Regions from separate parts of the Homo sapiens genome. Here all the other regions are linked to region 4. The links come from fine-mapping of genetic effects on gene expression. A gene starts in region 4. Each other region holds a variant in brackets. All regions are shown on one strand. Distances are between the middles of the regions.

Region 1 (8,104 bases), 48 kb after region 4:
TCGCCCAGGGCAGCAGGCCTGCCCGTTTGGGGCCCTCTCCTCACTGACACAGCAGGACTCCCAAGACAGATGCTGCATGTGACCCAGGCCAGGTGCCCAGAGCTGCTAACAAGGCAGGGCCCCCTGCCTTCCACTCTGTAGAGCTGCAAAGCAGCTGCCTCCCCACTTCCCCAGGGCTGAATTCCTAATAGGTAAGGGAAACTTAACCAGGCACAGGCCAGTGTGCACCTCAGGGGACCCCTGAAAGGATGTTTGTGCATATATATATATATATAGATGTAGATATTTATATTATATATATAATATAAATAGATATTTATATTTATATTTGTATTATATTATAAATATAAAATAAATATATATATTATGTGCATATATATAAATATATAGATATATAGATATATATTTATGCAGTTCGGGGAAAGACTAGTCCAAAGCTTTCATCTGATTTTCAGAAGGCTCCGGGACCCTAATCAGGTTGGGAAGCATGACCGCTTTAAGGCCAGATCCTCACTAAGTAGGAAGAGAAAGAGGGCCAAGGGGATGCCGCTGGGGAATTGTGTTTTTTAATAAGGAACTCTGGAAGACCAGCGTCCTTTTCAGAATCAAAGGAATACACCCTAGAGGGAGCATTCTAGGCCTGGCATGAACAGAAACATCTGGGGGCAGAATCGGCCTGCGGTTTCTCCAGTCACATGGACCCCACCCCTCCTGTCAGGACCCATGTAGTAGGTGCCCTCAAGGAGAATTAATTTATTTTCCAGAGCACCTTGTCCTCACTGGGCGCTCCCCCTGGGGTTAGGGTTGGGGGCACCACCTAGGGAAGCCTGCCTTCCTGCCGGGAGATGAAGGGGCAGGAGTCTAATCAGACCCAGAAGTAGATCTATGGGGATGAAGGAGGGGTGGGTGGGAGTTCTTGATGATAAATTGAGGCCAGACAGCTGTTGACCTGTGCTCTTGGGCCACCCACCCCCAGGCTGGGTATGAACAACGTGGCCCCCACCACCCTGGAGGGAGCCCAGAGCCCAATAGGCAGGCCTTTGGTGTGGCCCTGCAGGCCCACAGCGACACCATGTGGCGGCGAGAAGAAACTGCAGCAGAGTCGGCACAGGACCCCAGCTTCCATCCTCACGTTGTGTGGACATGGTCCAGCTTCCTGCCGCGGACCATGAGCAATCCAAGGGTAGGGGAGCCTCAAGAGGGAGACACTGAGCCTTTACGTAATGAGGCAGGGAGGGGTTCAAGCAATTAATTGAGAAAGGATGTGACAGGACTGGCACCTGGTCACTTTGTGGCCGTGAGCACCAGCTCCGCCTATCCCCTCTGCAGGGCAGAAGGGACAGTGCTGCGGGAGGCGGAGGTGCTGTGGCTCTGGGAAGGCTGAAAAGGGACGGCTGCAAAGGAGAAGAGCTTCGAGTCCTTTCCATCAGGAGAAAAACCCGGTCAGCTGTGGAGGAGCACTGCACAGGAGTCAGAAAGTGGAGTCTGGGCGTGACCTTGCACCTGACCAGCCTGGGGCTCTAGGTCCGCCACATCTGGACTAATCTCCTGTGTCCTGAGCTCCCAGGACCCCAGAGGCAAGCATGGAGGGGCCACGCTGGCAGGTAAAGTTGGTAAGCTTGCGGGGGTGTGTGTGGCAGGGGTAGGGGAGGGAAGGTGGGAAGGAGAAAAAGGAAAAGAAGGGAGAGGAGTAGGGGAGAAGGGACAAAATTTATTTCCAAGCACAGCCTTACAGGGCAGGTCTTATTTATTTTCCCCATTTTACAGTCAAGAAAATTGAGGCTCCCCAGCAGTGAGCAACTTGGATCCCGGGGCTGACTGGCACCCAGCTAAAAGACATTTCCCCAGGTCCCTTGCAGTTAGATGTTGCCATGTGACTGAGTTCTAGCCGAGGGAATGTGGGCAGAGTGGGATCCTTCCCAGGCCCGCCCCTTATGAACCTCTGCTGTGTGGTCCTCCGAGTTCTTTCCTCTCCGCCAGTCAGCCTGGAAACTATGTGATGCCACGGTTGTGAGGTGTGGGGTGCTGGGGTCACCGTGTAGAGGAGAGCTGCCTGCTAATCAGGAATACCTGTTTCCTGTTCTGGACGTTTTTTGTTTGTTTGTTTGTTTGTTTGTTTGTTTGTGACAGAGTCTCACTCTGTCGCCCAGGCTGGGGTGCAGTGGCACGAGCTCAGCTAACTGCAACCTCAGCCTCCCAGGTTCAAGTGATTCTCGTGCCTCGGCCTCCTGAGTAGCTGGGATTACAGGTGTGCACCACCACGCCTAGCTAATTTTTGTACTTTTAGAAGAGATGGGGTTTCACCATGTTGGCCAGGCTGGTCTCGAACTCCCGACCTCAGGAGATCCGCCCACCTCGGCCTCCCAAAGTACTGGGATTACAGGTGTGAGCCACCGCACCCAGCCTGTTTTGGACTTTCTGTGGACAAATTTGCATGAAGGCTTTGAGATGTGGGGCATTGTCTGTTACAGCAGCTAGCATTACCAAGCCAGGAATTGGAGGAGCGGGTTTCAAGCCTGTCTACCTCATTTCCCCCAGTTCCCATAGTGTAGGGTGTTGAGTGAGGCTTCGAGGGAGCAGCATGTTCCCCAAATATGTGTGTGTGTGCACACATGTGCGTATGTACAGCAGAATTATGGTGAGAAGAATCTCCACTCCCTTCCCACAGTCTCTGAACCGTGGTCATCTTTGCCTTGCCTGACTTTGAAAGGCTGGTGGGTTTTAGTGTTAAATCACCTATTCTTGTTCAGGCTTCATCTGGCAGCTTTGCTGTCCTGCATGGACCAGGAAAGAGGGGCAGCTGCACAGCTTTTCTCAGTCCCTGTTATTATTACTCTTTACTGGATCAAGGGAAAAGTCCTGTGATCTGCAGGGGGTTTATGATGAATAAATGAGCCCGTATGTACATATAAAAATGTCCAGTGCATGGTCGACTTCTAATCAATGTGAGTCAACTAGGAAAATTCTTAAATCCGCAGCTGTCTTCTGGTAAGACAACCCCTCGCCCCAGGAGGCCAGGGGCTCCCAGGGAGCCAATTTCTCAGCAGGGCCTGACAGTGGAAGGAAGTATTTTGGAAGGCCAGGCCATTAGGGAGCCTGCCACTACCAGGAGGGGTTCCAGACATGGGGACTGGAACAAGGCCCCTGGTTGCTAAGGGGGCAGAAACATGGAAGGAAGGAAGAGAGCTCCTAGCTGAAGGGCCTGGGGAAGACAGAAGCAGGCCCAGCCTCCCTTATCGCCTTCCCCAGTGCACTGCCTCCTGCCCCCTTGCTTGACACCCTCAGAATTTGAGTCCACCCCACATTCCCAAGCAAGGCTTCTAATCCTTTGCAGTGATCTCCCCCATCATTGTACCCATACTTGTCCTCAGAGAAGGTTCCTTGGCCTCCTGCCTCTAAGCTGAGGCCCCACCCAGAGGGACACCCCTCAGCCTGTCCGCCAGGCCCCATGGGCCGAGTGGTTACCATTTCTGCTGGTGAGCATCCGGAGGAATCTCGGGCATTCCACCTCCACCATCCGGCCCGGCACAGAAGAGGGCCAGCAGCTTATGTTGTCCCACATCCCCTCACAACCTGCCAAGAAAAGCAGCATCAGACAAGGATGGGGGATGGACCGAGGGCTGCCCTACCATCCTGTCCACATCACCGACACCCTTGCCTGCCTGGAATTCCCACTAGACTACTTTCAAAGCTCTCATTAGGTGCTGACTCCTCAGGATCAGGAACCTATCCTGTCTAATGCACCCTTGGACTCTGCCATGTACACGGTAGTGCTCAGTGTTGAAGATAGAAGGAAGTAAGAAAGGGAGGGAGGAAGGGAAGAAGGAAAGAAGGAAGGCGCCCTCTCCTATAAGCTTTGCAAGTAAAGGTCTGGATTTCTCTGGAGCAGATGGCACATCTGTTGGCCAATCAGTTTGCATTAAACAACTAAGCAGCAATGGGTCTCCCTTCTAGCTTCATGGTACGACTACCTGGGGAGCTTTAGAAATAGACCTAGCCGGCGTGGCACACAGGGATCCTGCATGAATTGGTTTGGGTGGGCCCAGGCATCATGTCCTTTGAAAGCCTTACAGGTAATTCTAACGTTTGACTGCAGGGTTGAGAACTCTTGTCCCATGATTCTCAAACTTCAGCTTGCATCAGAGTCACCCAGAGGGATTATTAAAACACAGATTGCTCAGTAAGTCTGGGGTGGGGCCTGAGTATCTGCATTTCTAACAAGTTCCCAAGTGATGCTGATGCTGTTTGTCCTGGGACCACACTCAGAGCCACTGCCCTGGCCTATGGACACAGCTCCACAAGTGTCACCACTGTATTTGCTGCAAGAATATTATTGAGGATGTTGCTTTCTACATCACTTGAGTTCCCTTGATGAGGCCCCTCTGGAAGGAGAAC[C/T]AGGTCTCAATGCAGTGAGAAGCTGAACTTATTGTGAACGACTAGTATACATAGACACTACATTTGAAGCTGGTTTCCTCTTTGATTTGGCTGCTAGGAAGCTCAGAGCCAGATGCGTGGCCCACTTCTGAAAACTGAAAGATTTTAAGATGAATAAAAAAAATTACTAGGTGTTTTCAATGCAAAACTAGGCATTGTCTAAGCACAGCCTTCTGGATTATCTGATTCAATGGGGTGTCAGGTCTTTTATTGTCTTCGAGCTACACTGCAACTCTGTAAGTTCTAGATGATTGGTAGCAATGCAAATGATTCTCGTCCATAGGCACAATAATTATTGTCCAGTTGAAATACAATTAATTTCACTTCCCTCCCTGTGTATTCAGTCAGCTTTGCATCTATTTGTAAATTCATGTTATCATTCTGCCTTATAGGTATGGTACTGTATTAGTCTGTTTTCATGCTGCTGATAAAGACATACCTGAGACTGGGTAATTATGAAGGAAAGAGGTTTAACGGACTCACAGTTTCACATAGCTGAGAGGTCTCACAATCATGGTGGAAGACGAAGAAAGAGCAAAGGGACTTCTTACATGGCGGTGGGCAGGAGGACACATGCAGGGAAACTCCCGTTTATGAAACCACCAGATCTCATGAGACTTATTCACTATCACGAGAACAGCATGGGAGAAACCTGCCCCCACAATTCTATTACCTTCCACCAGGTCCCTCCCATGACACATGGGAATTCTGAGAGCTACAATTCAAGATGAGATTTGAGTGGGGACATAGCCAAACCATATCAGTTACTTTGAATGCTATGAACCAGTGATAAGATCTTACTGAGTCCCTCACAAATTAAACAAGCTGTTCGGCAGGTATTCATTTTATATTTGTGTGTGAGCTGTGACTGTACTGTCTTTTAAGACATCATTTCACATAACAACTCACCAATTCTCCCAAAGTTGATCCAAGGGCAGCCACACAGGGAAACTGCTTCCTGCAACAGACTTCTGGAACCCGTGCCCTCTGAGAGGTCATCGCTGGGGTCAGGCTTGGAAGGGGCTAGAAATGAGCTGAGGGACACCCATGAGGCGAGCCGCAGTCAGCGCTCCTCCCGTTTGGGGAACATGGTGCAGGGCAGAGCCCAAAAAGAAAGAGCCAGGACTCAAGTCGGCCGACCCGGCCTCCAGGCCTCCCCCACCTTGCCAGCTGCCCTGCTCACTTGCTTATCTCTTGTGGGAGGACCGGCACCTCCCTCCTGAGGCTATCCAGAGGAAGAGCTCAAAGCCCAACTGAAAAGCCTGCCCAGAGCAGGCACTGGGACTGGCAACCCCTTTCCCGCTGGCCTCCCCAGGCCTGTTCCTTTTTCATCTGGATTCAGGAGGTTGGACTAGGCTGGGTCCCCTGAATGGCAATTCTTAGCTCTGGGGACTGGGCGATGGATGCGGTGTGCAGACATTGCGGGAGTACCCAGATGGCAAATGCTCAGCTTTTTTAAGGAGCAAGAACCTGTTTTTAGGCATCAATCTGACCAGACCCAAAGCATCCATAGTGTCCTTGACCCCTTCATCCCCTCTAAGTGAAATCTCCCTGGTGACCTGTCCCATTGCAGAAGTGTGACCCTCCAGCCTACATCAGAATGAGCTGGGTGCCTGTCAGAGATATGCAGATCTCTAGGCCCCAGATCCTCCTTGTGAGACCAGACCCAGGAATCTGCATTTTAAGAATTCCCCAAAAATGCCGCTGAAGTGGTTCCAGGGCTTGCTTTGAGAATTTCCACTCTGAGTCTCCCTGCTCCTCACAGCTGAGGGTTCCTCATTTCTAGGCTTAGCCCTACCCCTGGCTCCCAGGAGCAATTCACAGAGAGTGAGACAGGCAGTCACAGACCCACCAGTGGGGGTCACTACCAGCTGTGTCTTCACCTTGGTACCTGGGTACAGATGCCTCCCCCACCACCAGGCAGAGAGCCCAGGAGAGCACGCCCCTGTGCCTACGATGGGCCAGGCATAGCACAAGTGCTCAGCAAACACAGCAGATGAACAAATGAAGGGACGCCAGCTGGAACCACTGCCTCCCACACCAGTCCCGCCAGGCATCCCTCATAAACGGGCTTTCACCTTGACACCCAGTTGACTTCTACATTCTGCATCCAGGGCCTGCCAGCTCTGGTGCTGTGCTGATGGGGAGGAGCCCTGTGCGTCCCACACTTGAGCTCCTGTAATCCCATGGCGGTGCCCCCAGTTCCCGATGTGCCTGGCTCTACCCCCACTTTATAAACGCAGCAATCAAGCAGAGCCAGAAGTGGCTTCCCAGGCCACACAGCCAGGACATGGAGGGGATGAAAGCTGTCTCCACCCAGCCCTCCACCCACCTGACCAGTCTCCAGGTGACACCGGCCCCAGCTGCCAAGTGCCCTCCTTGTTCAAGCCAGGCTCTGGGAACTGGAGAGGGACAGAAGGGGTAGGGAACGGTAGGGTGGGCCGGGCCAGGGCCTGGGTTAGGGGGGATGCTGGCCTAGAGCGGGGCAGGTGTGGCCTGTTTCTCCCTGAAGAGAGGCCCAGCCCCTAGCAGGAGAGGGGAAGTGGGAGGGCCCAGAGAGGAACCCAGTCCTGAAATCAGGACGCCTGTGGGGGCTTTGGAGGCGGGGCAGTCCCAGGAGCCACAAGGGCAGGCTGCAACCATGAGCAAGGGTGTCGTAGAATTGTAGAGGGACACAGAAGGCAGTGTGTGGGCGGAGCTTTCACAGGACAGTGGAAGCATCTATGAGGCCAAGGGGCAGGGGTCTGTGTCCTTGGAGGCATATGGGAGATGAGGAACTCCTTGGATGTTCCAGAAGCTTCACCTGCAAGAGGAGGAGCCGGAGCTTCTCTCTGCTGTGCACTCCCCAGGGACGGCTCCGCCACTATCCCGAGGCTGCCCGTCTACATTCCAGCTGTGGACGCTGCTGGCTGGGCCTGAGCAGGGTCTCGGGAACTCAGCAGGCCTGCCGGGTAACCCTGGGCCTACCCAGATGCCTGTGGGATGGGGACTTGGTCCTGAGGACCCTTTACGGACAGCCCACTCTGTGTCTCCGTGCTGACCTAGCCTGGCACCTGGAGTCTCAGGAGGCCAAGGGTGACCCAGAGCCCTCTTTCCCTGTGCGGCCGTCTCAGGGTTGCAGCAGGATGCCTCGTTTCAAGTTGCAGCTCCCCTGCCAGCTCGGGTCAGCCTCTCTTGCATTGGAAGCAGCTGGGGCATTTCCAGAGCATGGAAAAAGGCAGGAGCCTTTTGCCTCACTTGTGGAAAAACAGATTCAGTGCTGGCTGGACTGGCCAGGTCAGCCAGGGTACCAGCCGCAGGCTCCAGGCCATGAGGCTGGACAATGCCTGGCTGGTTGGCCAGACAGATGTGGACGGTGCCAGCACGTCTGAGAGGCTTCCTAACTTGGGTCACGTCAGGCAGGGCCCCCAGGGATGCCTGGGGACAGGCCATGCCAGGCCTGTGCTGGATGCACATCAGACATCCTGGAGCTGAGGTTGACAGCAGCTCAAGGGTGAGTAGGGTCACTGCCCCACGGCGGAGATGAGGAAGCTGAGGTTCCAAGAGGGGGAAGTGAGAAGTGTGGGTGACAGAGCTGGTGATAATGGAGCTGGGATCCCACTCAGCCTTCCCATCTCCCCAGCCTGGGACAGGCTGCCTCCTCCAGGCTGGCCTTGGTGGCAGCAGACCT
Region 2 (8,104 bases), 46 kb before region 4:
GTCAATAGCTCAAAAGAAATTTTCAAGACTGAAACACAAAACAAAGGATCAGCAACGTTTTAAGCAAAAAGTCAAAAAGATTAGTTCAGTCCAGGCAGTTAACTCCTGTTCTGTTTGATATTCATGAACATTTTAGCTCTCCATGAGTCCTGAAAGTTTTTCCTCTATTCTGATGCCACAATCTCCAAAGTTATCGAAACCTGCATTCAAGAGCACCTGTTAGAGTTTTATAGCTGATTATAAAATCATCTTCTAAAGAGGACCAAAACAAGACAACAATTGTCCATGGGTGAGAAAAAGTTTTAGGGCAGCCATAGTCAAAGACACAATTGACAAGGAAATTTGTTACCTCTGTCTCACACAATAATTTTAACGTTACAATTATGATTATTACTGATAATGTACACTAAGTCACATAAGAATTACAGAAGTTTCCCATAATTTTGGAGCACATACCAATAACATTTATACAAATACAGTCCAAAGAAAACCAGACACCATTTTATATTTGACAATACTTCCTGTGTAATTTTTGTTCCAAATAAGCCAAATTATGTCATTTTTGAAGTCACTTTTGAAGTCACTTGTTCCCCATAATTTGGAACCTTCCTTTGGATATGATCAAGTCAGATATAGAGTTGGTCAAACCCAATGGGAAAAAGACTGAAACAACAACAAAAACAGAAACAAACAACAACAACAAAAAGTTAAGCAAAACAAACAATTGTACAACTTAGGTGATTACTGAGCACTCTAATGGTAAGGAGAAACTAAGACCAGCTGGTTGTTAACTTTAGCCAAGACAAAATCCCAAATCAGCTACTTACTTAGGGATGGGTCTCATGCTGAAGACTGCTCTCTCCTATCCTAAAAGCAGGGAGGATGGAAACAGAAAGATAAAAGGATCTCAATTCCGGGTGGCTCTGAAGAAGTGTTGAATTATCCCTAGGCTACTTACCTCAAAATTTATTCCGTAAGATAATAGATCCTTGTGTGTTTAAACCACTTTTTTCAGGAGACCGCTACACGCAGACAAATGCAATTCCTAGGTAATAAAGTTACTGTAGTTAGTCAGGGCTGTGCCCATATTAGGTAAGTATGGTAAAGTCCTAGGGTATGGGACCCAGGATTCTGGAACAGAAACTATTGCATTTATAGTTATGTGACAGTCTCAAAAATTTGGTGCTCCAGAAGTAGAAAATGAAAAGGACACAAATTTAAGGGGCTCTTTGAGATGGAGTGTCGCTCTGTCGCCCAGGCTGGAGTGCAGTGGTGAGATCTGGGCACACTGCAACCTCCGCCTCCCGGGTTCAAGCAATTCTCCTGCCTCAGCCTCCTGAGTAGCTGGGATTACAGGCGCGTACCTCCACACCTGGCTAATTTTTATATTTAGTAGAGACGGGGTTTCATCATGTTGGTCACGCTAGTCTTGTAATCCTGACCTCGTGATCCACCCTCCTCAGCCTCCCAAAGTGCTGGGATTACAGGCATGAGCTACCGTGCCTGGCCTAAAAGTTTCTTACATTTGGGTTGTGAGCCTGTATTCCGTATTTGTTACATTAGTCTCTGCACTTTTCAGTATTTTTAAAAATAGTGGGCATGGGATGTAGTGGGAAGAAAATCACTGTAGCACTCCTCCAGGTCAAGTGGGCATGAAGAGACATCCCTACAAAACTTCCTCACTGATGAGGGAAGTGGATTGGCTTAGCTCACTGTGGTAAATTGGATGATTGTTCCCAACCCCTGGCACCCTCCGTAAAGGATTATCTGTCTGTGCCCTTCACTGTTCCAACCTGAAGTGTGCCCACCAGAAGTGAACTGCTCGTCCCCACCCATTCACTCGAGCTTGGTCATAGGACTTGCTTTGCACAACGGCATGTGATCAGACATGATCCAGGAAAGAGCTTTATATGAGCTTGTGTGGCTTAGCCGGCCCTCTTGAACTTCTGCCATCTGCCATGGGAAGAAGATGCCAAGGAGCCACTGTTGCCAGGTACATGAGAGATAAGCAAGGCCTACCTGAAGCTAACCACAGCCTTGAGCAAGTCCAACTGATCCCAGATAAGCCTGGCAGAGCCACCATCAACTGAAGGCCTGTGAGCTAGAAATTAACAAATAAATCTTGTAAGCCACTGAGTCTTAGGGGTTGTTGATCATGCAGCATTATTGCAGCAGATGTTTATAATGAACATCTGATGTTTTTGTCTGTCTGGCATCCTTCTCTCAGCCTACTAAGAACAGTTCCTCTCTCTTTGCAGCAACTGCCAAAAGGTGCTTCTGGCAGGCTGCCAGCCACAGTACCTCATCCCAGAAGTGGATGTATCAGGAGTCCATTCAAGACAGCAGGAAGGGAGAAGAAAGGATAAAAGGGTACCCTTCCTTTTTAAAGATTTGTGGTTAGCAGAATAATGATCTACCCAGAGAGGTTCGTGTCTGAATCCCCCAGAACCTGTGAATAGATTAGGTTGCATGGAAAGGAGAAGTAGGGTTGCTAATCTGCTGATTTTAAGGTGGGGAGATGCCTGGATTATCCAGATGGACCCGGTGTAATCACAAGGGTCCTTAAGTGTGGAAGAGATAGGCAGAACAGGCAATGTCAGGATGGTGCGATGTAAGAACAACTCAGTCAGCCATCACTGACTTTGAAGATGGAAGAAGACACTAACCAAGGCACGTGGCAGCCTCTAGAATCTAGAAAAGGTGAGGAAACAGATTCTCCCCTACAGCCTCCAGAAGGAACAGCCCCCCAGACACCTTGATTGTAGCCTGGTGAGACCCATATCAAACTTCTGACCTCCAGAACTGTAAGTCAATAAATTTATGTTGTTTTAAGCTACTGCATTTGTGGTGATCTGTTACAATAATAGGAGCTGATACAGGATCTTTCTGTAAAGGACCACACACCTGTCATTGGCCAGAATTTAACCACCTAGCCATCCCTAGCTACAAGAGAGATGGGCACATTGCCAACATGAATAAAATCAGGAGAATTTATGTCATTACCAGGGGAAGGAGGAAATGTATGTTGGAGTGAACAAATGGCAGCCTCAGTCACAGAATCCCATTCCTCTGGCCACAGTGACGTTCCAAAGATGGGCATAGGAGTCAACAACACACTAGCTGTCCTCTGAGATCGTATTTGGACGTTAGAAGAAAAATCTCTTTCTCATGGAGATGCTAAGCCTGGAGCTTACTCTAGCCACTCCCTCCACCCTGCCACCCACCAGGAGAGAATGAGTTCAACAAAAAAGAGAGGAAGAGCTAAGAGATGGACATTGTTCTAGTTCTCTATTTTTGTGTAACAAGTCACCTCAGAAATTAAATTAGTGGCTTAAAATAACAACAATCACTTTATTATTATTGTTTTCATGGCTCTGGGGTTAGTTGGGCTCACCTGGGTGGGTCTTGTTCAGGATGGCTCCCAAGGCTGCACCTGATGGTGGAGGCTGGAGTCCCACAGAGCTTCCTCACTCATGTGTCTGGTAGATGATTGATGCTGGCGATTGGCCAGACGCCTACACCTGGCTCCCCATGTGGCTTGGGCTTCCTCAGAGCATGGTGGCCGAGTTCCCAAAGTC[G/A]GTGTCCCCAGAGAGTGGGCAGAATTTGTGTCACCTGGTATAACCTAGCCTCATAAATCACACAGCATCCCTTCTGCCATAGTCATAAGCCCACCCAAATTCAAGGAGAAGGAACATAAACCCCATCTCTTCATGGGAGGAAAGTCAAAGTCATATTGTAGGAAAGGCCCATGGGATGGGAGATTGTTGCAGCCATTTTTGGAAAATATAAGCTGCAAGAGATTCCATATTATCACATGAAGCTTCAATCAAACTGTCCTTTCCAATGTAACTCTTTTTTGTGTATGCTGGTACGAGAGAGGTTTCTGTCATTTTCTGGCTACAACAACATTATACACACGTCCCACAAGACTCCATAAGTGGTAGTTCCCTTTCCCCTGTTCCTTCTTTTCCAGTGGCCCTTCACTTTCCCTGTGGATGGTGGAAATTTGTCACTAAAGCTGTCTGTGTTGCAAGAGAGCATAGCAGCAACCTTTGCCACTATGGACGGTTATGAAACTTTTTCAACATACATAAAAGTTGAAATAATTTTACAGCAAACTCCTGTGTATTCACTACACAGATTTTCTTTACTTTAGTTGCATTATCTTTTTTTTCTTTTAAAAAAAAACATTTTGTAGGAATGGGGTTTTTCTGTTTTGTCTACACAGTTCATAGCCCTGCCTTACAACTACACTTTCGGGAAGTTTTATAATGCATCTGCCCCAGCCGAATGCAGGCAGAGCCCTGCTCTTCAGCAGTAGGCTTTGTTCCGCCTACCCACAGACTCAACATTTCCATCAGTACGAATCTAAACTGGAACCTGCACTGTCTTTACAGTATAAGCAAAAAATTTGCAAATTTTGCCATATTCTTGGACAGACTGTAAAAAAGATTTTTAAAAAAAGAAAAGAAGGCAAGGAGCAGTGGCTCACGCCTATAATCCCAGCACTTTGGGAGGCTGAGGCAGGCAGATCACCTGAGGTCGGGAGTTCGAGAAACTTTAGTAGAGACGAGCTCGTCTCTACCAAAAATACAAGCATGCCTGTAATCCCAGCTACTCGGGAGGCTGAGGCAGGAGAATCACTTGAACCCCAGAGGCGGAGGTTGCAGTGAGCCGAGATGGCACCATTGCACTACAGCCTGGGCAAAAAGCAAAACTCCATCTCAAAAAAAAAAAAAGAAAAGAAAGAAAAGAAAAAAGATTTGCAAATTGATTTTTCATCTCTTTCTTTCTTTTTAATTTTAATATAGCAAGCTTATCCTTAAGCAAATTGATTTTTAAGAGATATTAAACAAGCCTTGGCAATATTGCCTTCTCAATCCCCAGAGAGAAATCTTCACATCCCATCTCCAAACTGCTGCATTTTAAGAAATATTTTTCCAAATATGAAAAACAATATGCATGCATTGCAGAAAACTTAGAAAATATTGAAAACTATAAAAAGAGAACAAATAATCTCTCATAATCATTTAGCACATAATGGGAATCATACTGTGTATAAAGTTCTAAACCTGATTTTTCTCCCCTAAAGTATATCATGAAAAATGTCTGCATAATATTTGCATCGCATTGTTAAACTATAATTTAATTAGTACACTATAAGCAATACCCTATTTTTCCTGTTATTATAATAATTTGTTAAACTTTTTTTTTTTTTTTTTTTTGAGACGGAGTCTCGCCCTGTCGCCCAGGCTGGAGTGCAGTGGAGCGATCTCGGCTCACTGGCTCACTGCAAGCTCCGCCTCCCGGGTTCACACCATTCTCCTGCCTCAGCCTCCCAAGTAGCTGGGACTACAGGTGCCCGTCACCACGCCCGGCTAATTTCTTTTTGTATTTTTAGTAGAGACAGGGTTTCACCGTGTTAGCCAGGATGGTCTCGATCTCCTGACTTTGTGATCTGCCCGCCTCGGCCTCCCAAAGTGCTGGGATTCCTCGCCCAGCCTGTTAAATATCTTTATACATGGATCTTTGAAAACATTTTTTTTGCCCCTAGAATAGATATACTCTTGGATATAACTTATTGAGTAAAAATGTATGATCTTTTATACATATTGTTAAATTATTTTTGTAAAAACCTGTTACTAGTAATGTATAAAAGTGCCCTCTCACCAACTTCTTGCTAGCACTGAATATTATTATTTTAAACATTGTTGTTTTTATAATTCAGCCGGTAAGTTGTAGCTTGCAGTTTCAGGCTCCCTTGAAAGTGAAAAAGGTTTGATGGCTGCCTTCTCCAGGATTCTCTTTAGCGGCCTCTGCTGCTTCAGAGGCAGTCTTTCTCTCTCTATCGCTCTCTCTCTCTCCCTTGGGGCCATCTTGCATAATTTCTGGTTTCCTCCTTCCTGTTGTATTTTGGAGTTCTTCCCACAGACTTTTTCTTTTTCAGTCCCAGCTCTCCACTTCAAAGTCTACTTCTGCCAGGGTGCAGCAGGTCAGATGTTTTCCATTAACTAAGGTAGTATATGTTAAATGGTTAACCCAGAACCCTCTGGAGTCAGCAGAGGTGTTGAGTGGAGCTGTGCCTGCCAGGAAATGCCCCCTTATCCTCATTTCTGCCCATTGGGCAGAGCAGCATTTTCCGCTTGGCAGAGCAGGCCTGATGCAGCGCTCAGAGGGAACCAAGCCAGTGCTGGCATTGCTGCCAATAGCTACTGAGGAAGCAATCTCCTTAACGATACATGTGATCAAGACTCAAAAGCTTAAAAGAGAACCTGTAGATCTTGCGTGGGCAGAGGCCATGAGTCATCTAGAAATGGTGTTTGGGGCTGTGAGCAGATGACACCATTTCCAGTGGAGACAGTCACGGGACAGACTGCAGGACAGAACTGGGACCTGGGATCTGCAGAAGCCACATGATGGAGTGATAAGACCACCTGGCCTGGGCCAGGACGCAGACCATTCTTTTAGCCACACCAAACTTTAAAGGACTTTCCATTTGTTATTTCTCTCCATTTTATTATGAAAATAAGTTGAAAGAATTTTCCAGCAAACACCCATGTGTCCACTACATAGATTTTCTCACAGCATTTTACACGAATTGCTTTTTTTTTTTTTTTTTTAACATTTTGTAGAGATGGGGTTTTGCTATTTTGCCCAGGTTGGTCTCAAATCCTGGGCCTCAGGCAATCCTCCTGCCTCGGCCTCCCAAAGTGCTGGGATTACAAGCATGAGTCACTGCACCGGGCTGCATTATCATATATTAATCCACCTATCCATCATCCCTCTATCTCTCAAGCAATCTAAATTATTTTTTCTGTGAATATCAAAATAAGTTGCCGATGTCAGTATGCTTCCCCAAAAAACTGAATCATGTATATTATTAATCAAAGTTCAGTATTTATTTACAGTCCATTATTTCCTTAGGGAAAGATTTATATACCACAGATTGCATGCAAAAACGTGTACTGTGTGATGTTTTAACAAATGCATATACTTGTACAACCCAGATCCCTATCGAAATATAGAACATTACATCCAGAAATTTCCTTCATGCCCCTTCCCAGTCAATATCTGTCATCATGGTCCTAGAGGCAAATTCTGCTCTGGCTTTTTCTACCGCAGATTAGTTTTGCCTGTTCTACAACTTCCTATAGATGAAATTATATATTTGTATTTTTGTGTGTGAGACTTCTTTTACTCCATCTAAGGACACTTTACTATGTAGGAGGAAACTGGCAAACTATAGGGCCTGCCAGGATCCTGTTTTTTGTTTAGGAACAGAGAAAACCTTTTTTCCTAAATCGAATTTTAAGTGACAGTAAGAAACACCATTAAGGGGGCAAAGGTTTCCTATCTCATTCTATGGAGCCAGCACTGCCCTAACACCAAAACCAAACAAAGACATTACAAGAAAAGAAAACTGCAGACCAGTATCTTTTATGAGCATAGATGCAAAATCCTCAACAAAATATTAGCAAATTGAATCCAACAGTTTGATAGAAAAGTGTAACTGACTTTGGGAGGCTGAGGCAGGCAGATCACTTGAGCTCAGGAGTTTGAGACCAGTCTGGGCAACATGGCAAAACCCCACCTCTACTAAAAATACAAAAATTAGCTGGGTATAGCGGTGCACTCCTCTAATCTCAGCTACTGGGGAGGCTTAGGTGGATGGATTGCTTGAGCCTGGGGAGGTTGAGGCTGCGGTGAACCGAGATCATGCCACTGCACTCCAGCCTGGGCAACAGAGCGAGACACTGTCTCAAACAAAACAAAACAAAAAAAAACAAAAGAAAGAAAAGTGTAATCACCCAACAGGTTCTCCTTGCCCACTGCCTAGAGAGAGCTGATTTATCAAGACAGGGGAATTGCAATAGTTTAATTCTCACAGAGCCAGCTGTATGGGTGACTGCAGTTTTATTATTATTCGAATCAGTCTCCCAGAAAGCTAGGGGATCAGGGTTTTTAAGGATAATTTGGTGGGCAGGGGGTCAGAACATGGGAGCACTGACAGGTTGAGTTGGAGATGAAATCATAGGGAGCTGTGCTCTTGTGCTGAGTCAGTTCCTGGATGGGGGCCACAAGACCAGATGAGCCAGTTTCTCGA
Region 3 (8,104 bases), 36 kb after region 4:
CAAAAGATAAAAAAATGTTTAACGTTTTACCTTTCTCCTTCTTGCCTGGAACACAGACAGGAGGCCTGGGGTTGCAGCAGTCATATTGCAACCATGTGGTATAAAGCATGACATCAAAGGCCTACTCTAAGGATGGCAGTGCGGAAACAGGGGAAAAGACTGTGTCCCTCATGGTATCACACAGCCATTGCACCACCTCATCTGTGGACTGCTTACGTAGGAAACAGCCCCCATTTGTTTAAGACCCCAATATATAGTTTTCTGTTATTCGCAGCAAAAGGAATCCCAACTGACACACAGGGTGATTGCAATGAATTGAGTCATCTGGGCATTTGGAAGGAGAAAGGGGGTTAGATTTAAGAAAACACAACGTTTTATTGCAAATACATTTATACAGACATACTGGCCCATGCTCACCCTTTTCTTTTTATGACCAACCCCCACCCTCTCCAGACTGGGTCATCTTTCTTCAGCTGGGAACTGGCAGAAGTAGGGAAAAGAGGAGTCTCCCTATATATCTAATTCCTAGAGTGACCAGTTCACTCCTGGACACTGGGAGTTTACGGCAACCCCCATGAGCTTCTCTCCTACATGACCCAGATTGTGCACATGTGGCTGTGGAATCTCCCTGAACCTCCTGGCCCAGTGTCAGCACTGGCTGCTTTATCCTTGGTATTAAGTGCAGCCTCAGCAGGGGCTTGGGGGAAGGACAACTAGGCTACTCCCCTCTCCAAAGCTAGGCTGGGGAAGGCAGGCGGGCCTGGCGACATCCTGGGGCACCCAGACATATTACCCTGTGGGCATCGCAGTAGGTGACATCATCTGAGGAGAAGAGCACGGCGTCCTTGATGAAGTTGGACAGGGCACGAAGGATGAAGGACACGAACAGGTGCATGTGGATGTAGTTGCGAGTGCAGTGGAGCCTCCTGCAGGGAGAGAATGTAGGGACATAGAGGCCAGAGCCTGAGGGGCTGGGACTCAGCCAGGCCCACCTGCCACCAGTGCACTGGGGAAACTGAGGCCCTAGACTTCAGCTCTTTCCGGGTAACACATTCTGTGAGCATAACCTGAATGAGGAACTGGGTCTCCAGGTGGCCAGTCTAATTTGCTACATGCTGCAGTGAGAAAAAAAAAAAAAAAGGCCAGCCACAGTGTGGCTCACACCTGTAATCCCAGTACTTAGGGAGGCCAAGGCAGGAAGATCACTTGAGGCCATGAGTTCAACATATTGAGACTTCTGTATCTACAAAAAAATTGTTTTTGTTTTTAATTAGCTGGGCATGGTGGTGCCTGCCTGTATTCCTTGTACAAGAGGCTGAAGTGGGAGGATTGCTTGAGCCCAGGAGTTCTACCATTGCCACTGCACTCCAGCCTCAGCAGCAGAGCAAGACTTTGTCTCTAAATGAATAAATAAAAAGCTGGGGCTGTAGGGGCAACATTGTATTCTGCCCTGACCTACCACCATCTCCAGCTCCCAGAATTGTTTTGGGGGAGGGGTGAGGACGGCAACCAGAACGGGAGAGGGCTAGGGGCACAGAAGGAACACAGGCTGCGGGGAGAAAGCAGACCCTGGCTCTGCCACTTAGCAGCTATATGACCTTGAGCAAGACTTTTCACTTCCCGGAGCCTCAGTGTCCTCCTCTGCTGCAGGGGACAGAAGTCAGTTACTTGTTCTGCTTCTTCTGGTACCGGAAACAGGCTTTCTTCTGGGAAACCCATTCCAGCTCTGGATTGGGAGGGCTCCACCCTTCTCACCCTCATGACAGACTTGATCAATCAGAGTGCTCCATCGCTGTCCATAGTGATTGGCTCAGAGTTGGGCATGTGACCTAAGCCCGGCCTATGAGAACTCTGAGGACTTTTACTGGAACCAGAGGGGAAGAGGCTCTTGTTGGCCCTGGTGTTGCTGAGCTAGCAGGATGAATGCCAGCAACTGCTGGTGGTTGTCTCTGCCACTTCTGCAGAAAGCCTCCCAGAGGATGAGGCCAACCCAGAGCAGTGGAATGGAGGGAGACGGACCTAGCTGCTGATGCCACTGAACACCTAGATCCAGCCATGCCTACAGCAGATGCCCATGAACTTGCCACTTACATGGGTCAGGTCGCCTTTGTTTTTCTTATGCTGTTTCGAGGTGGATTTCTGTCTCTTGCAACAGAATCTCGCTAGTACTACTGTAAAATGGGGTTCCTGTTACCTATCTCATAGCATTGTGTGAAAATTAGAATACATATAAAGCGACCGGCCGCAAGTTCTCAGTAGTGCTTAGTAAATGTTGAAAAAATAAAGGGATGAATGAGGTCACAGGAACCTCGATGTTTTGCCATAGGTCAGCTTTAGATCAAGAGACGACAAGGTAGTTCACTCAGACCTTCCTCTTTCTGTCCTGGGTGGTTGAGAAGAGACCCAAAGTCTGTACCTGAGGAGGGCTGGGGTATGGAGAGCTGGCAGTGTGTTCTCACCGGAAAGCACAGAGGATGCCAAGGGCGACCAGGAGCATGACCAGGGAGGAGCTGTAGCCCACGGTGTACATGACTTTCAGCTTCAGCAGGTAGGAGTGCTGCAGAGAGAGGCACGTGTCAGCCCCGCCGGCCCTCCTGGCTAGCTCTGCCTTCTGTGCCTCACTGCATCCGCTTCAGGCAGCTTGAACCCACCGACGCTGCTATTCTGTCCATACCTCAAGGACGCCAATTCACAGACACATAACACCGTAACATCCTGGCATTGGAAAAGCCCTTAGGGATCATCTGATGATCCCTAAGGATCATCCCTAAGTTTGAATTGATGCCAATTCAAACTTCCATCTTATGTATAGGGCCCCTTACCAACTCTCTGAATTCAAACCTTTGCTTGAATACCTCTAGAGACAAAGTGCTCACTGCCCTTTGAGAAAGTTATTTGGTGTAAAATAGCACAAAATATTAGATTTTGTTTATGTGAAGCTAAAATCAATTACTTGCACCACCTATTGGTCCATTTTCTGTCTTCTGGATCCACTTAAAATGGATTTGTCTTTTATATAAGGCAGGTTTTATATAGAAAAGTTACAAAGGTCATACAGGGAGGCCTGCCATTTTTTAATACAGCTATTCTGCCCATCTGTTTCTCTTTCATTTTCTCTATGTCAAATATTCCCTGTGTCAGGTCGGGTGCGTTGGCTCATGCCTGTAATCCCAGCACTTTGGGAGTCTAAGGAGGAAGGATTGCTCGAGCTCAGGAGTTCAAGACCAGCCTGGGCAACATTGC[G/A]AAACACTGTCTCTACAAAAAATTTTAAAATTAGCCAGGCACAATGGTGCACACATGTGGTCACAGCCACTCAGAGGCTGAGGTAGGAGGATCACTCCAGCCTGGGAGGTCAAGGCTGCAGTGAGCTGTGATCCAGCCACTGCACTCCAGCCTGGATGACAGAGTAAGACCCTGTCTCAAATAAATAAATATATACATACATACATACATACATACATACATATTCCCTGTGTCTTTAACCTCTTTCCACAATCCTTCAACCTTTAGTTAAATTAATATGCTCCAGTTTGTTAATGTCCTTCTTAAATAAGACCCCCAGAACCACATAGCTGAAAAGCTCCAGATGCATTCTCTGACCAGGAAGAGGTAGAAGGGATCCATCACCTCCCATCTCCCCTGATCTATACATTGCGCGCCTATGCAGCCAAGCAGGCATTCACTTATTCAGCAGCCACTTCACACTATTGGCTCATCTTTGAGTCAAAAAGATCTAAGTGGAATATTGGTCAGAAAATTAAAAGATCTGGCCAGGCATGGTGGCTCACACCTATAATCCCTGCACTTTAGGAGGCCAAAGTCGGTGGATCACTCGAGGTTAGAGTTCGAGACCAGCCTGGACAACGTGGAGAAACCCTGTCTCTACCAAAAATACAAAAATTAGCCAGGCATGGTGGCGTGCACCTGTAATCCCAGCTACTTGGAAGGCTGAGGCAGGAGGCTCGCTTGAACCCGGGAGGTGGGGGTTGCAGTGAGCTGAGATTGCACCACTGCACTCCAGCCTGGGCTGGAGACCCTGTCTCAAAAAAAAAAAAAAATTGAAAGATCTGCATTTAGGTCCAAAAAATAAAGTATCAAAAAGAATCAAGGGAATAAAAATTAAAAGAATAATTTTTACCAACCAAACTAACAAATATGTAAAAGTAATAATTTCCTCTGCAGGTGAGGGTATAGTGGGACTCAAAACTGGTTCAATCTTTCTGGAAGGTAATATAGAAATATGTATCAAGAACCTTTGAAATATGACCTTTTGACCTCCCTTCTACCTTCAGGAATTGATTCTAAGAAATAATCAGAAATTTAAAAGCATATTTATACATGAAGATGTTTATCACAGAAGTATTAGTGATAAAAAAAACCCAAATGTCCAACAATAGAATAGTTACATCAATTATTTCAAATACAAATTACTTTCATGGTATACCGCTAATAAAATGTTGTTTACCAAGAATTTAAAATGAGTCAGGACATGCTGATATATTATTACATGAAAAAGCAGAATTCAAACTTTACATGTGCAATGTGATTCCAGCTATATGTAAAAACATATTAGGGAATTATATGAAAACTGATTCTGCTGAGAATTTTTAAAATAAATAAATTTTAAAAAGATTTATATGAAATTACCTTTTGTGTAGATCCAAAATGATTGAATATCAACACAAAAAATAAAGAAAACAAAAAAACTGAATATCAGCCATTCCATGTGGTTCAATCTCATACATACAGAGAGACAAGATTGTAAAGAGATATGGCTGATGTTAACAGTGGTTAACTTTGTATTATAGGCTTGCAAATAGAGTTGTTATTTTCTTTTATAATTTTTCTATACTTCTAATTTTTCCACAGTGGATAAGGGCTATTTATAACCAAAAGAAAAGGGTAATTATTTTTTTAAGAAGGCACAAGAATAGAATAGGGGAAACCTGGCTGACAGCTCTTCATGGGAAAGTAACCTTGAGGTTAGAAAGACCCAAGCTCCATGGTGTCACACAGTGTACTGTAGAGAAAGAACACAGGCTTCAGAGCCAGGAGACAAGGGTTCCAAACCCGGACTGTGACTCACCAACTGTGTGACCTTGAGCAAATTATTTAACTTCTTTGAGCCTCAGATTCCTCATCTGCAAAATGGGGATAATAATATCTACCTTGCAGACTTGTTGGAAGAACAAATACAGTGTCAGATAGAGTACCTAGACAATGCCTTGGCATGTAGGAAACACTCAGTGTATGGTAATTTTAATTTTTCCCCATCCCACCATCCTCCTTCAAAATGAGTCAGCGGTTTGAGATGGTAGGAAGTCTGAGCATGAAATGGCTCAAAAATTAGCTTTATTCTCAGTTACACTGATGGAGTGCTGTGGGCAGCTGGCCACGTGGGAATGTTTGGAGAGGCTAGGCATGTTATTTTAAGAGTCACATTAATAAACTGAAGCATTTCCAGAGGAGGGTGATTGTGTCATCTGTAGAGTACATGAAAAAACTGGGTCCATGACACCTGGAGGGGAAAAACACACACTTAGAGGAGAAAAGTGTTAGACTGAACAACATGTAGAAGAAGGGCCAGACCTCATGTGTGAGCTCCAGTTGGGGGAAGTTTCCAGAAAGGAGGTAGATTTTGACTCGGGGTGACTGATCATTTTCTGACAGCAGGAGGTGGCCTTCGATAGGAAGGCTACCATGTGACATTGAGTTCCCCACTGATGTAACTGCTCTCCTGAGAGCCAGGAGTCACCTCTCAGGGATGTGAGGAAGACCCTTGAAGGGCAGTGGGTTGCCTTGAATTAATGGTTCCTAGGCTTTGGGACATCAAAGACCTGTGAAATGTCAAAAAATTGAGGACCAATATGTTAACATATAATCTCGCCATGTACAGATGAGCCGCATTGCAGAGGGTGTCAGCCTCACTCCTGGGGATACCTGGACCAGCCTGCAAGAGCCTGAAGAGGCACAGGGTGACAAGGGGGGTGTCATGCAGAAGATTCTGCACTGTCCCGTGGCTGTGGCCATTGCTTGCCAGGTGACCAGCCCGCTTCTCATGTAGACCCGTTCTTGCCTTGTAAGGTAGGAACCATAAGACCTCACCCACCCAGAAACAGCCTTGCTCCCTGAAGGTTTCATGTGACCTTCGGTCCTTAGCTTTTTTTTTGTTGGTTTTTGAGACAGGGTCTCACTCTGTCATCCAGGCTGGAGTACAGTAGCACGATCATGGCTCACTACAGCCTCAACCTCCCAGGCTCAAGCAATCTTCCTGCCTTAACCTCCGAGTAGCTAAGACTACAGGCAAGTGCCATCACACTCAGCTACTTAAAAAAATTTTTTTTGTAGAGATAGGGTCTCCCTATGTGGCCCAGACTGGTCTTGAGCTCAGGAGTTCAAGTGATTCTCCCAGCCCAGCCTCCCAAAGTGCTGAGACTACAGGCATGAGCCACCACACCCAGCCAGTCCTCAGCTCTTAACATCTAAAAGTGTGCACCACTCCTGGAGGACATGGGGCCCAGAAGCCTCACTGTTGTCTGTCCTGAATTCAGTTGCCTCTCTTACTGCTGTATGTTCTGACTGTACCACCTGCTTTCTGTAGCCTTTAGATCATCTGTCACAGACATTTTTTGTTAAGGGACAGAGAGTAAATATTTTGGGCTCTGAGTGCCCTGTGGTCTCTTTTGCAAATACTCAACTCTGCCCTTGTCATGTAAACGTAGCCTTACTGTGGTAGGAATGGGCTTGGCTGTGTTCCAATAAAACTTTATTTACAAAAGCAGGCAGTGGAGCCTCATTGGGTCCAAGAGCTACAGTTTGCAAATCCCATTTTATTTACCCATGTGACATCTATGTGCGGTCTTACTGCCAATCTGAGTCCACTATTGGTGTCAGTAATATTGTGTGTCAATAATATAGTGGTGTATACCAAGTAAGGATGTCACAAAAAGAAAAGAAGAAAAAAAGAAAAGCAACTAATACATACCTTCACCCTCAGTTGATAAAAAGACATTTTAATAATAAGAAATAGGATGGTTTAAATCTCAGAATAAAGAACAAAACTCGTGCCAATTTGTGGACTGGCATTTAGGGACCGGTGAATCACGTGGTCAGGAAACCCTTCCAATCTCAGAGCTGTTGTTTTGTTTTGTTTTTTTAATGCAAGCTGAAGCCAAGCTAGGTCTCCTTTCCACCATTTTTGGACAATCATTTTTCTGAGTTAAGTCCAAAGCGTTACATTTTCCTTTATGAAATTTCAGCTCCTTGGTTTGGGGATTTTACAGTTTTAATCTTGGCATGAACGTTGTGGTTAAGGCCCTGGGCTCCATTATTCGTACTGATTAGTGTAAACCAACAGTTCTCATTGTGTGGATGTTTTTTCCTATTTTGGGGGCAGAGTCTCGCTCTGTCGCCCAGGCTGGAGCGCAGTGGCGAGATCTTGGCTCACTGCAACCTCTACCTCCCAAGTTCAAGCGACTCTTGTGCCTCAGCCTCCCAAGTAGCTGGGATTACAGGCACACGTCACCATGCCCGGCTAATTTTTGTATTTTTAGTAGAGACAGAGTTTCGCCATGTTGGCCAAGCTGGTCTCAAACCCTTGACCTCAAGTGATCCACCCGTCTCGACCTCCCAAAGTGGTGGGATTACAGGCATGAGCCACTGTGCCTGGCCTGTGGCTGCAATTTCTGATGGCAGTCATCTTACAATGCCAGCCTAAGGAAGAAGCCACCAGGACAGCAGGGAGAGAGATGCAAATGACACAGACCCTGGTGATTCTGTGGTGCTGCCTCATCAAAGAATCCTGAAGCCCATTCTCTGCATTTCCAGTTACGCAAGCCACATGTGCTTATTAAACCAGTTAGAAATGTGTGTTATTTGCAGTACAAAGCCTTCTTATGAACCTCATCCGGCCACCCATCATGATATTATTCCTTTTTAGTTTTATGGATTTTACAAATTTGAAACAAATAAGCCCCCTCTCTTCATATAAGTCGATGATAGAACTGTTCCTCTGCAGAAGGCAGAGCCCACTCACCATCCCTCCAAGACCACGAGTGCTCACTCCTTGTCGAATCTCCTTATTAAATCATCCCACTCTGACCAG
Region 4 (8,104 bases):
AAAAGTGAGGAGCACAGAGGGGAAGTATTTGCTCAGAATGCATTAGAAGCCTGGTTCTTCTGTAAGCAAACCTTATTGACCAACCTGTATTTAGGGACTGGGCATGGAGTGGTGAAAGAGGGAAAAAGTCCCAGCTCTCATGGAGCCCATGATATTTTAGAGAGGGAAAGGGACAATCCAGGAAATAGACAAATAGCCACTTTCAGCTAGTGATCAAGAATTTACAAAGGTAAAAGAGTGGCAAGTGGGGGGTGGAGTGTTACTCTGGCTGGGAAAGTCAGGAGATGCCCCTGAAAAGGCCCTGCAGACACCCAGGGGAAGGTCTTGGCAGGAAGGTCGGGGGCTGGGGGGCCAGGAACCAAAGCTTCCTGAGCCTTGGAAAAGAGGGATGGGAAGATGCTTGAAGGGACAGAGGAAGTGAGAGTGAAGGCTGTTCCACAGGCATCCAGGCTAGAGAGGAGGGGATCTGGGGTGGGCTGAAGCCGGGCAGGCACTGGAGGGGCAGAGAGGAGAGGATGGAGTATATGGAGGGCGTGAGGGCAAAGAGAGCAGGAGGATGTGGAGCCTGAACTACCGAGGCCTGGGAGAGAGCAGAAATGGAGAGGTAGGTTTGGACTCTAAAACTCAAGCACTTTACCATTGACAGGGACTTTGTCTTTTTCTTCTTTGTCCCTCATTGGTCAGGACAGTTGTGACTACATAGTAGGTATTCAATCACTTCATTCATTTAGTCAATGAATATTTATTGAGAACCTACTACATGCCTGGCTCTGTCGTAGGCACCAGCGATACACTGGTGAACAGGACAATGCCCTTGGCCTCTTGGAGCTTACATTAAAAGGGGGAGAGAGGACAAGTAAATATGTGTATGTGGGCAGAAGAGAAAAGAGAATGGAGGGGCTGTTTTAGATGTGGGGGTCGTCGTAGGCCTCTCTGATAAGGTGACATCTGAGCCCAGACTTTAAAGAAGTGAGCTGGTGAGTCTTAAATGGGAGTATCTGGAGGAAGAACATTTCAGGCAGAAGAAGCAGCAAGTACAAAGGCCCCGAGATGAAAGAGTGTTTGCTGACTGAACAACAGATCTAGTGCTTGTTGACTGAATGATCAGGAATTGTGTCCCTACCAATACACTTGAAACTCTCTAAGGAACATGCCTGGATCTTCCTCATCAGGCAAGAGTGGTCAGAGGGGTGGGAAGGAGCCACTTCCTGCCTTTCTTTAAGCCATTCCTCTTTCCCCAGCCCTGGCCAGGCCTAGAAGCAGGGGTCAGGGAGGGTCAAGTGCCGAGTCTGTCACAATCTGGACAAAGGGCAGAGAAAGTCAAAGAATAGGCAGGCTCCATGCTGTCCCACAGCCCAGTACTCATGCCCATGCTGTTTCTGCTTTTAACACCTGGGGGTCCACCCGGTAATCCAACCCCCACCTCTGCCCCTGCCATGTTTCCCCTCACACTAAAACTCCCTGCTTCTCTGGACATTCTTCTCCTGGTGCGGTATTTGTCTCTGCAGGGTTTAAGGGAAAGCTTCTTCACCCTCTGAAGTTTCAATGAAAAATAAACTCACAAAAGGCACATTAAATGGAGAAAAGGTATATACATTAATTCAAGGTGTACACCCCGGGAGAATCACGGAGTATGCCCACCCCTCAGCAGTGCTCAGAAGCTTCTATACTATCCTGGCAGAACAGGTGATGGGAGAGGAGAGAAGACGAATTCTGTAGAGGGGCTAGCCGAATGGATCAGGGAATAGAGATTAACTTGCCGGGTGTGGTCACATTCTCAGTCCTACAGGGAGGAGAAGAAACACAATTGTTCCTTTTGGTGGGTCTGGATGTTAGGCAGATAAAGGAACTTCAGTTTCATCCTGTGTTTTGGGAGAGACGGTGAGGGGAGGGAAGGTCAGAGAGACCTTGAGGCTTTTTCAGTTGTGTATGTCAAAGCGCCATGCTTTGGGACTTCTGACCCCAATACCTCTGGCTATCTCACCAGGATTTGAGAGGGCTGTGGATGCTGCCACTCCCCGCACCACCCCAACCCCCTAAGCCAGAGAGGTACCAGGAGACTCCAGGTCTTAGAGTCTCAGCTCAGATTCCACCCAAATTCTGGCCATATTCCCAGTCCTCATGTGAGCATAAGATGATCAGAACTGGATAGTCACTTCCTCCTTATTATTCTTAAGTCATTTCTGCTTCTCCAACTATCTTGCTGACAAGACATGTTGCTCTAAATTCTACTGATTCAATACTTTTCTATTCTTACCAACAAAGCGTAACAGGCTGTGAGAAACATGCCTGACCACACACGAAACTGGAGAAGGCAGTGGGTGCAGATGACCCGACCTGACTGTTCTTCTGATTTTAATTCCAGGCACTTCCCTCTTGGCCAGGTGAGATGCTATGATCCAGAATCTCACCTGGGAGAGCCCACAGGGCATTCTTAGGGCTCAGTGAAAGGATACCCCCGCAACAGGACAGGTCTTCCTTTCCCATGTGGGCTCTTTATCCAGAACCCAGAGCTGCGGAGAGTCTGGCTTCTGGGACCCTTGACTGGGGAGAAAGCAGGTGGGGGCCACGGAGGGAAGGCCCCAGAGCAGAGAGGCACCAGGCTGGCTGAGCCTGGGCAGCTGCCCTTTGCCTTAGCTCAGTGGTTCTCAAAGCCTGGCCCCCAGGCCAGCAGCACCAACATCACTTGAGGCCACTCAGCCAGAAACTCTGCAGTGGGGCCTCGCAATCTGTTTTAACAAACCTTCCAGGTGACTCTGGTGCAGAATGGTGGCAAGAACTCAAACCTGGACTAGGCCTGCTGGGTAAGTGGAGTCCCAGCTCTCCAGTGGACTCAATGTGGGTGGCCTGGGCCAAGCCTTCCTGTGCCTGGGCCATTTCTCCGTTTGTCAAGCTCCAGGACTGGGGTAAAGGATTTGACAAGGTCTGTTGGGCAGGGATGGAATCAGATGAATATCTAAGTGGAAGATATACAGACAATTGTAACTACCCCTCTTTCTCACATGGCTCTAAAGGGGAAAACAGATGAGTGCAGTTGCTTTGTCTTTGGGTAAAGTCACCAGGAGCTGCCTGCCTGAGTGAACCAGACAATTTAATGTGTGCCATTTAGTGAGGGGCCTTGTTTTACCACCACATTTGAGGATGGGGGGAGGGAAGCCTTTCTGTTGGAATTTGTGGCCCTTGGACACTCCTCCCACCTCCACCCTTTTTGGCGGTAAAAGCTTTTAGGTGCTGCCTCTTTAAGAACTCAGATCCGGCCGGATGCGGTGGCTCATGCCTGTAATCCTAGCACTTTGGAAGGCCGAGATCGGTGGATCACCTGAGGTCAGGAGTTCGAGACCAGCCTGACCAAAATGGTGAAACCCCCGTCTCTGCTAAAAAATACAAAAATTAGCAGGGCTTGATGGGGCGCGCTTGTAATCCCAGCTACTCGGGAGGCTGAGGCAGGAGAATCGCTTGAACGGGTTTGAACCCAGGAGGCGAAGGTTGCAGTGAGCCGTGATCGCGTCATTGCACTCCAGCCTGGGCCACAAGCGCTAGACAACGTCCAGAAAAAAAAAAAGAGAGACCTCAGTTCCCATCGAGGTGGAGAAAAAATAACCACATTTGTTTGGCATATTTGCATTTTTAATAGTCCCTGAGGAGTTCAGGAGGAAACAGGGTTTTACATCCCCTTTTAGGGACGCAAGTAGGATTGCCCCAAAAAGTTCCACTCCGTTCACACTCAGCGAGGGCCCGGCAAGAGCCCCACCTTTCACATTCATTATTTCCCTTACTAACCGAGGCTCCGAGACGCTAAACAAGCAGCCCAAGGTCACACCGCAGAGTGAGGGCAGCAGAGCCTCTGCGCCTGCCTCCTCCCTTCGGACCCTGCCGCGTTCCCAGAGGCTGGACTCAGCAAGCTGGAACAGGAATCGAACCCTCAGGCCCTCGTCGCCGTCCCAGCCCTCGAGGAATCTGCGCCCCAGGCGAAGCTGTCCTCGGAGGTTCGGGAGCGTCGGAGTGACTTCCCGATCCTTTCCCCTGGGACCCGAGGGATCCCTCCCCCCAAGTGCCGGGTCCTCCCCGCGGCTCCCCAGGGGCTCCTCCGGCCGCCCTCGCTGACTCAGCGTAATCCGAGCCGCGGAGGGCGGCGGGGTTGGCGGAGCCCGCCCGGGGTTAATCGCCGAGCTTTGAACGCCCCCTCCCGCCCCGCCCGCCTCCAGCAGCCGCCCCGCCCCTGCGGAGAAGTCCCGGGCTGGCGCCGGCGGCCACAGCGGAGCAGCTGGAGCGATCGAGGCTGCAGCGCGGCCGCCGGGCGCAGCATGACTGCCGTCGGCGTGCAGGTAGCCGGCGCCTGGCGGGGCGCTGACCCGGGGTGCTGCCCCGCCGTGGGAGGTTGGGGGTGGGAGGACGGAGGGAGGGGCGTACCCACCGCGAGCGCCGGCGTCGGGCTGGGGGTGCGAGCGCCCCCCGTGCCCGCCCCCTGTTGCAAACCTGGGTCCGGAGGAGGCTGGGCGGGGAGCAACCTCGGGGGGCCTGCCTGCCTCACATAGCTGCTCCCGAGGCGCGGACTCCGGCTGCTTCTGCTCGCGGCCTTGCAAGCACCCGAGGCTCCCAAACTTCATTTGGAAAGATTTTTCTTCTCTTTGGTGTCACCAGTGACTTACTGGTCAGTTTACCATAAGGGTCCCCCTTTGTGAGAAATGAGGCGCGTCTGGGGTGGAGGGACAGAATCGACTTGCAAAGTGAGGCTTATGTAACAGAGGATGCGTCTCTTGGGAAGTTAGACCTTTCTGGGGGTGGAGGTTAGGAAGACCGTCTCCCTCCCCAAAGCTGCGTTTGGGGTGCTGGGCTGGGGGTGGACTTGCTGAGTCGCGCGGACACCTCAGGGAAAGGCTCTGGCGAGGGAAGAAGCCCGTGTCTCCGAAGATTTGGCTTCTCCTTAGCGTAGTGCACGATGTTTATGTTGGCTAAGAACCTACACATTCCTACCCGCTCCCTCGGGCCTGCTGCTCCCCAAAGGGAAGTCAGTGGGTGGCGGTACCGCTGCCCAGCGGGCGAACTTCCTTTCCGCGCAACTCGCCCGCTGCAGAGTCTATCCGCTGGACTGTCTCCAGGATTAGAGAGGCCCGTTGACTTCGTGTACAAACGCTCAGCCACAACACTGACCTAGTAGACACCGTTCTGCCCATTGTATAGATGAGGTAACCGAGACTCAGAAGTAAGGTGCCCTCCGTGGCTGGCCAAGGAACAGAATCAAGATTCAAACCCAGGGCTTTCTGGCTCCAAATCCCACTGGCTCCTCCTGCCTTTACCTAACGGGAGAAACCCCACCCACAGGACACCCCCAAAACCGCTTCTATAGCCAGGACCTAGGCACCTGGGCGAAGCCGGGCATGGGGCGCAGGGAATTCCTCCCCTTTGTTCTGGGGGATGTCTGGAATCCCGGCCAGGCAGCATGGTGGGACAGACCAGGTGCGGTCCCTCCCCTCTAGGAGCTTACAGCCCATGTAGGGAGAGAGACTTGGAAACAGGGCATGGGGGAGCGAATGCTAAATTAAGAGGTGCAAAAGTTGCCAGACGGGGAAGAGGAGGAAGCCTGGTAGCAAGGTGGGAGCTCAGCTGGGGAGGCCACAGGCTCCAGGTGAAGGGCGGGTGCTCCGGCCGCTTCGGGATGATAACTCTTCATCCCCACAACCATGACTTGCCAGGGGGCAAACACAGGTAGGAAGCAAGTTCTGGGTCATGCAGGCAGCGGTGGGCCAGGCTGCAGCTGAGAGGAGCAGAGGCAGGCCGGCTCATCAGGAGGCTGTGAACTTCCAGGATGTTGACGATGGTGATGGCCTCACCTGGGTAGGGGCAGAGTGGGTGATGAGGGGGAGCAAATATGGGAGACATGTTGGGGATGTGCGGAATGAGTTGGGAGGAGCTTAATTTGTCTACCTGGGGGTGCTTTGGTTAAGGGGAACACATGAGGCCCTGGGTTATAGGAGGAAGACCATGACATTGGACTCAGTAGCCCAGTAGTGTCAAGTGACCCTATTCTATAGGTCACTAGAAATCATGCAAGGTTACAGATGAAAAAGGAAAATGCTTACATTTTTAGCAGAGCAGTTAAGCTCCAGAGAGATTTAAGTGATTGCCTAAAGGTACCCTGCAGGGGTCCTCTAGGTCAGGGGCAGGACTTGACCTCCCCGCTCCCTTCTTTTCCACTGCACACTTGTCCAGCTGCCCTCCAGTAGCCGTTTCAGGCCCTGCATCACTGAAAGCTGGTGGAGATGCCGGGTGGTTAGGAATGAAGACTCTATATGTGTTATTATTGTTATTAATATTAATAGCTACCATGAGTTGGGAGCGGCCCGTGTACCATGCATCTTTATATACAGGATCTCATTTGATTCCTGGGAGTTTCAGTGGTGGCCAGAGAGTTTAAATGAAGCCCTACTTTGGGGCAGGAGCGGGAGGAAACTAGATGAGGTCAGCTGTCTCCACTTTCTGATCCTGACGTGACATCTAAGGGCCTGGAGATTAAAGTCCAGTCTGCCTAGGACAGGTAGGGCTGGAGAAGGGACAGGACGTGCCTGTTTTCCAGCCAGCATGCTGTCTCGGGTTAAAAGGTTTCTGGGTCCTGTGATTTGTTCTCTGCCTGTGGTGCTCCTCCTTTTTAGGACCATTTATCATTCTCTAGGGACCTTGTAACCTTGCCAGGTGCCTTCATGGCTACGACTTTCCTGCAAGTGTCATTAACTTCATTTTCTAGATGAGGAAACAAGGGCTCAGGAAGTTAAGAAACTGCCCAAGGACAAACACCTCTAATGGTTTGTGGAGTAGACACAGGTTTTCAAAGTTTCCTTTGGTTTCTTTCTTACCGGTAGATTTTTTTTTTTTTTGTAATAAAATGCAATACAGACTCCTGGACCCCCAATGTCCCAAGCAGGTACAGGGCTCAGTTGAAGTGAGGAAGGGGATGCAGAGCCAGCCTGCTCAGCTTCCCTGCCCACCCGGCTTCAGCACTGGAAGCCCCACCAGGAGCATGGGGACACAGTTTGAGAACCACAGCCCATACTCTTAGCTCCATGTTTTTGACCGCACCCAGGCTGCCTTCATCTCAGCTAGGACCCAGGCTGGTCCTAGCTCTGGCATGGCCCTTGAGGCATCCCTCTGCACGCACCTTTTCCTCACCAAGAGGGCATGGGGCACAGGGAATTCCTCCCCTTTGTTCTGGGACATGTCTGGAATCCTGGCCAGGCAGCGTGCTGGGACAGACCAAGTGCGGTCCCTCCCATCCAGGAGCTTACAGCCCATGTAGGGAGGGCTGTAAGGGCTCAGTACTGAGCCCCTAGCACAAAGGCCCTGTCCTTAGAAGGCCCTAGTCAGTATTTATTCGCTGAACGGATTCCACCTCCTGCATATCATACAATTGTCTGGGCAGCCATAAAGAGCTTCATTGTGCTTTAGGTGAGTGATCTCAGGCAAGTCACCTGCCCTCTGCATAGTTTCCTTCTCTGTACACCCACCATGGAGCTTCCTACTTTATCAACCTCATAGGTTTAAGAATAAAATAGGATCCTACTTAAGGCAGAGGTGCTGAAAGCAAACTGCATCCTTATTCCTGTATCCCTGGGGTTGAAATTAGCGGTAGCTCCTGTGTCTGGGGCATGTGAGCAGATACTCTTGCTGGGCTCTTTGACCACAGGAGTCTCCCAGAAGCAGGGCTTTATTTTATGTCTCACACAGAGAGGAGTGGCCCAGACCTGCCTCAGGAAGCCTCCATTTGCCCATGGCATAGGACACACCCCATGTTCCTCACTGCTCCATTCTCCTGGGTCCTAGCAGTGACCGTCATGCGTGCCTGTTTTGCATACCTCCCAAACCGAGGTGTAACCTGGGCAGCTTCTAGACACACTGCAAAGCAGGTCATTTAATGTATGACTGTGCAGGAGACTCAGTTTAAAGGAGCTTCAGACGGAAGTGACAGTGGTTGCCAATGACCTTTGACTTATCTCACAGCTCTCCCTTGAGCACCCACTGAATGCCCAGGTATTGGGGACACAGCAGTGCCTAAACACAGAATGTGGTGGTGTGGGGGTAGGGGGCGGCCTTCCCAGAGCACACAGTGTTG

The links.
Region 1: its variant is fine-mapped to the expression of TMEM37 in whole blood (TOPMed, PIP above 0.99).
Region 2: its variant is fine-mapped to the expression of TMEM37 in lung (TOPMed, PIP 0.99).
Region 3: its variant is fine-mapped to the expression of TMEM37 in whole blood (TOPMed, PIP above 0.99).

Annotation. Positions count from the first base shown.
Region 1 is chr2:119,475,346-119,483,449 of GRCh38, forward strand. SCTR (secretin receptor) reads right to left here. Exons shown (of 13, transcript NM_002980.3): 3 at 3,466-3,573. SCTR-AS1 (SCTR antisense RNA 1) reads left to right here and starts at 1,109. Exons shown (of 2, transcript NR_147847.1): 1 at 1,109-1,613. RefSeq lists an enhancer at 5,594-6,105. The variant C/T (reference allele first, on the strand shown) is at 4,396.
Region 2 is chr2:119,381,657-119,389,760 of GRCh38, forward strand. No RefSeq gene overlaps it. Among named protein-coding and RNA genes, the nearest start is that of DBI, 19 kb to the left of the region's middle. The variant G/A (reference allele first, on the strand shown) is at 3,579.
Region 3 is chr2:119,463,330-119,471,433 of GRCh38, forward strand. SCTR (secretin receptor) reads right to left here. Exons shown (of 13, transcript NM_002980.3): 5 at 2,460-2,557; 6 at 794-926. Among named protein-coding and RNA genes, the nearest start is that of SCTR-AS1, 9.1 kb to the right of the region's middle. The variant G/A (reference allele first, on the strand shown) is at 3,244.
Region 4 is chr2:119,427,600-119,435,703 of GRCh38, forward strand. It overlaps TMEM37 (transmembrane protein 37), which reads left to right and starts at 4,255. Exons shown (of 2, transcript NM_183240.3): 1 at 4,255-4,325. The coding sequence starts at 4,305. RefSeq lists a silencer at 4,027-4,406 and an enhancer at 4,690-5,196.